Linked DNA regions of Homo sapiens: region 2 is linked to region 1. Evidence: fine-mapped expression QTL. A gene starts in region 1. The other region holds a variant in brackets. All regions are shown on one strand. Distances are from middle to middle. Region 1 holds the start of TRIM5 (tripartite motif containing 5). Region 2 overlaps TRIM5 (tripartite motif containing 5).

Region 1 (3,031 bases):
CATGAAACAGAAAGCTGCGGGGGTACAGTGTGGAGGGGGTATGAGGTTACTGATGATGGAATTAAGTGATAACAGGCTGCCCACTGCAGTGCTCCCCATTGCCTTCTCCTGAGGCATTTTCATTTTCAAACTAAATACTCCTCTCTACCAATGATCCTAGTTCCAGTGTGGACTTCCTGAGATGTTCCAGTAAGGGAAAGCTTAGAAGGGAGGCTATGGTACATGGACCACAGTTCAGCCTTTTGGACCAGTTTTGCATAGTAACCAGAAGAGAAGAGAGAGGAAGGCCTGGCCCTGCTCAGGGATGCAATAGATACTTTGGAAAAGACAACAGCGGGAAGTTGGAGAGTTCTTTGAAAGTGAATAGTTGAAAGAAATAATGTGGTATTTCTTTATCGCTCTCCAGATAAACTTCTTTTTTTTTTTTTTTTTTTTTTTTTTTTTGAGACGGAGTCTCACTCTGTCGCCCAGGCTGGAGTGCAGTGGCGCGATCTCTGCTCACTGCAAGCTCCGCCTCCCGGGTTCACGCCATTTTGCTGCCTCAGCCTCCGGAATAGCTGGGACCACAGGCACCCGCCACCATGCCCGGCTAATTTTTTATTTTATTTTATTTTATTTTATTTTATTAGAGATGGGTTTTCACCGTGTTAGCCAGGATGGTCTCGATCTCCTGACGTTGTGATCCGCCCGCCTCAGCCTCCCAAAGTGCTGGCATTACAGGCGTGAGCCACCGCGCCCGGCCCTCTCCAGATAAATTTCTAGCATCCTGTCCTCTCTGGGTTTCGGAGTCTTAATAATATGACATCTCTCCTACCTGCAGCTCCTTTTCTGTTCATAGGTCCTATAAGATTTTTAAGTCCAGACCAGAAATCTACTGCAATTCTCTAAAAATCATTAACTTTGTTCTTCCTTCTCTTTGGGCCATATCTGTCACCCAGAAGCAGAACTCAGCTGTGAGATCAGGAGCAAGAGGAGCACATTGGAAGAATTTCGAAAAAGGGCACCTTTTCTAATTTTTAATACTTGGCTGGGTTAATCTGAAACTATGTCAGAAGAAGTGGCATGATAACAAGATCCTGAGACTCAAGAGAAAAGGGAGATTGAGTGGGAATGCCTCTAGTTCCCACGGCTCCTCCTGTGAACAGCACAGCTACACGGCCCGGCTGATTCATTCAGAGGGCGGGACTCACCAGGCCCTACGTGGAGAAATGCCATTGGCCCATAGTTTATCTTTCACTTTCCTGCCCTGAGTGTGAGCAAGAATTTCCTGCGGTTCCTCTAGGAAAATTCCTTTGTGCAGATCAGGCCCGTGGATTGGTGAGTGAATCCTAACCACGTCTTCCCTGGCCTGTCTTCACTCTTCTCCCCAGAATCACCACTTCTGCACTGGTGTCTGAAGGTGTATTGAGTGATTTTGTGGAGGGCAGAAGTAGGAAGTCTTTGGGACAAAACTGTATTTACCTTGGTGAGTTTAACTTATCTGAAAAGCTGTGCGGGGGTGGGGAAAAGACACAGTTCACAGACTTCTTGCTGCCAGAGCTGACTGAGGGGAACAGAGCCGCCTGGCGGGCAGGCAGATTTGAAAGAAGGGAGAGCTTTAAAGTGAAGGGCTTTGTTTCCCGAAGGCTGGTTATTTTTCCATGCTGACTCTCTCCCCATCCCCTCCCTACTCTATACTTTTTAATTGAACTTTGCTGTAGAGAGCCAGAATTCTCTCTTTCAGTGTCTTCTCCCAACAACAAGGGCAAAGACAGGGGCCTTGGAATCCTAATGATTTAATGCCTATTAGTTTACTAATGTAGTGTTTCTGCATAACTCTACAGGTCAGTTCTCATCACCTTGGCCTGGCTCTGTGACATCAGCCTTCATGGTGTGACAGCTGTCCAGTTCTGTAGTCCTGTCATTGTCACTGTAAATGGAGTTCTTTCCCTAGTTCATATTGGTTACAAAGATAATGGGAAAAAAGGCAAGCAGGTTTTATTTCTTGCTAGGAGTGGAGAGTAAGAGAGCTCCTTCTCTAAAGCCCCCTCCCCCAAAACAGTGGAAAGCATTGGCTTTAAAAGAACTGAGTACGGGGAGAGAAAGGAGTGTTAGCCTATAGGGTGGAACTCCAGTTGTGCCACCTCTGTTTATAAACACATGTCTTCATACTGTGTCCGGAATTGGTGGGTTCTTGGTCTCACTGACTTCAAGAATGAAGCCGCGGACGCTTGCAGTGAGTGTTACAGTTCTTAAAGGCGGCATGTCCGGAGTTTCTTCCTTCTGATGTTCGGATGTGTTCAGAGTTTCTTCTTTCTGGTGGGTTCGTGGTCTCGCTGGCTCAGGAGGGAAGCTGCAGACCTTCGCGGTGAGTGTTACAGCTCATAAAGGCAGTGTGGACCCAAAGAGTGAGCAGTATTAAGATTTATTGCAAAGAGGAAAATAACAAAGCGTCCATAGTGTGGAAGGGGACCAGCGCAGGTTGCCACTGCTGGCTCAGGCAGCCTGCTTTTATTCTCTTATCTGGCCCCACCCACATCCTCCTGATTGGTCCATTTTACAGAGAGCCGAGTGGTCTGTTTTGACAGGGCACTGATTGGTGCATTTACAATCCCTGAGCTAGACACAAAAGTTCTCCAGTCCCCACTAGATTAGCTAGATACAGAGTGTAGACACAAAGATTCTCCACATCCCCACCAGAGTAGCTAGATACAGAGTGTCGATTGGTGCATTCACAAACCCCGAGCTAGACACAGGGTGCTGATTGGTGTGTTTACAAACCTTGAGCTAGATACAGAGTGCCGATTGGTGTATTTACAATCCCTTCGCTAGACATAAAGTTTCTCCAAGTCCCCACCAGAGTAGCTAGATATAGAGTGTCGATTGGTGCATTCACAAACCCTGAGCTAGACACAGGGTGCTGATTGGTGCATTTACAATCCCTTAGCTAAACATAAAGGTTCTGCAAGTCCCCACCAGACTCAGGAACCCCACTGGCTTCACGCAGTGGATCCTGCACCGGGCCGCAGGTGGAGCTGCCTGCCAGTCCTGT
Region 2 (2,748 bases), 20 kb after region 1:
ATTAAATGTTAGGGTTTCTTTTGTAAGGCACCAAAGTTTTGTTTTGTTTTGTTTTAAAATCCTTTTTTTTTTTTTTATGTCCTATGAGTTTAAGAATGTAGACAGGGAGAGGTTAATTATTTCATTTTAGAAGGAAGAAACTGTGCTTCTGAGAGGTTAAGATCTTCCCACGTTCTCACAGAAAGTAAGTGGGAAGGCAAACATGAGAACATTTTGTTTGCCTCCAGGGTCAAGAGTTTGCACTCTCCCTTCTCAGGATCCCCAAGAAGAGAGTTCAAGTGCCTCAATGGGTTGAAATGATAGGAAGTCAGGGGTGTTCCACGGACACAAGGTCAAAGGTTTGGAAGTTTTTTTTTTTTTTTTTAATTCTTAGGACGGAGAACGTGACCTTGAAGAAGCCAGAAACTTTTCCAAAAAATCAAAGGAGAGTGTTTCGAGCTCCTGATCTGAAAGGAATGCTAGAAGTGTTTAGAGGTGAGGAGAGCTAGATCAACAACAGGGTTATGGAATTCAAGTGGTGTTAGGGTGCTAAATAGGGAAGAGGGTGCAGTTTCCAAATATGGATAGAGGGGATAGGGGAGGATAGATATTGTCTGCTGCTGATGGGATTATATTTAATGGGAAATGGCTAGGTGGCTGTTTCATCTCATCATTCAGCAATTTACTGCCCTACCATAGGGCATACCTACTCTTTCCCTAATCTGGAGAGAAAATGAATTTCAGTGCTGACTCCTTTGTTTGTATTCAATATTGTGCATTTTTATCATTTCAGAGCTGACAGATGTCCGACGCTACTGGGGTAAGGAGAAGTCACATTATCATAAGCCACCCTGCGGCTTATCATTATTATTATCTTTATCTTTTAGAATTTTATGTTCTCTATTAGGCTCATGTTTTAAGATTTATGATTCTCCTTCCAAGACACACATAACTTACCCCTCCTTATAACTTCTAAACAAGGTTCCTCCCAGTTTTCTCTCAAGTCTTTATCAAGATTTCTCTCATATCACAAATAAAGTTACATTATATCCCTTAGCTGACCTGTTAATTTTTCTACAGTTGATGTGACAGTGGCTCCAAACAACATTTCATGTGCTGTCATTTCTGAAGATAAGAGACAAGTGAGCTCTCCGAAACCACAGATAATATATGGGGCACGAGGGACAAGATACCAGACATTTGTGAATTTCAATTATTGTACTGGCATCCTGGGCTCTCAAAGTATCACATCAGGGAAACATTACTGGGAGGTAGACGTGTCCAAGAAAACTGCTTGGATCCTGGGGGTATGTGCTGGCTTCCAACCTGATGCAATGTGTAATATTGAAAAAAATGAAAATTATCAACCTAAATACGGCTACTGGGTTATAGGGTTAGAGGAAGGAGTTAAATGTAGTGCTTTCCAGGATAGTTCCTTC[C/T]ATACTCCTTCTGTTCCTTTCATTGTGCCCCTCTCTGTGATTATTTGTCCTGATCGTGTTGGAGTTTTCCTAGACTATGAGGCTTGCACTGTCTCATTCTTCAATATCACAAACCATGGATTTCTCATCTATAAGTTTTCTCACTGTTCTTTTTCTCAGCCTGTATTTCCATATTTAAATCCTAGAAAATGTGGAGTCCCCATGACTCTGTGCTCACCAAGCTCTTGAACCTTCTTACACACTCAGCCCCTTCTGTACAGCACCTCTTGTCCAGGTGCATCTCATACACCTGAACTCATTTGCATCATTTTAACCATCTTTTCCTTGCTGTCTCCCTTCTTTCTATTTGAACGTCCTTCACTCATCAGTAAAATGTAATAATTGCCTTGTGCCATATTGTCCCCAATATTTTATTGACATTTGATAGCAATTTTTTTCATCATTTTCCGTACTCCTAAGGAAAACTGACCTATACCTCATAAAATGAGACCGCTATTTAGGTATTACTTCTGCCAGATATTTATCACCCAATTGCCTCTGACACTGACTAAGAAGATGAAGAAAAGCTTTTCAACAGCCTTTCTATATCATCGTGTGATAATTGTTCACCAATGAATGAGTCCTTAGCCCTGTGTCAGTTTACCCTCGATGCCCTTATTTGTGAGTTAAAGAGAAAATATCATAAATGGTATACTCTTAAGTATAGAGGTTTTGTATCTAGAGGATCTCAGTTCAACTCCTGTCTCTCCATATACCAGCAGTGTAACTGTGAATAACATACTTAAATGGCTGTGCTTATTTCCTTTTCTTTTCTTTTTTCTTTTTTTTTTTTTTTGAGATGAAGTTTTGCTCTTGTTCCCCAGGCTGGAGTGCAATGGCACGATCTCGGTTCACTGCAACCTCCACCTCTCAGATTCAAGCAATTCTCCTGCCTCAGCCTCCCAAGTAGCTGGGATTACAGGTGCCCACCACCACCCCTGGCTAAATTTGTATTTTCAGTAGAGACGGGGTTTCCCCATGTTGGTTAGGCTCGTCTAGAACCTCTGACCTCAGGTGATCCACCCGCCTCGGCCTCCCAAAGTGCTGGGATTACAGGCGTGAGCCACGGCGCCCAGCCTGTGCTTATTTTCTTAAAATAATTTTTGTATTAAAAACTTCACATTAAATAAGTGCTAATGTTTTATTGCATAGTAGGGTGACTAGAGTTAACAATAACCTATTGCATATATTTTGAAATAGCTAGAAGAGAGGATTTTGAAAGTTCTCAACACAAAGAAATGACACATATTTGAGGTGATGGATATGCTAATTACCCTGGTTCGGTTATTAC

What was found. PIP is the estimated chance that this variant, and not a neighbour inherited with it, causes the effect. A credible set is the group of variants that fine-mapping cannot tell apart.
Region 2: its variant is the best candidate, but not a certain one, in a credible set for the expression of TRIM5 in nasal epithelium (TOPMed, PIP 0.84).

The regions. Positions count from the first base shown.
Region 1 is chr11:5,683,302-5,686,332 of GRCh38, reverse strand. It overlaps TRIM5 (tripartite motif containing 5), which reads left to right and starts at 1,259. Exons shown (of 8, transcript NM_033034.3): 1 at 1,259-1,465. RefSeq lists an enhancer at 1,252-1,501.
Region 2 is chr11:5,663,707-5,666,454 of GRCh38, reverse strand. It overlaps TRIM5 (tripartite motif containing 5), which reads left to right. Exons shown (of 8, transcript NM_033034.3): 6 at 374-474; 7 at 773-799; 8 at 1,060-2,748. The coding sequence ends at 1,646. Among named protein-coding and RNA genes, the nearest start is that of TRIM5, 20 kb to the left of the region's middle. The variant C/T (reference allele first, on the strand shown) is at 1,419.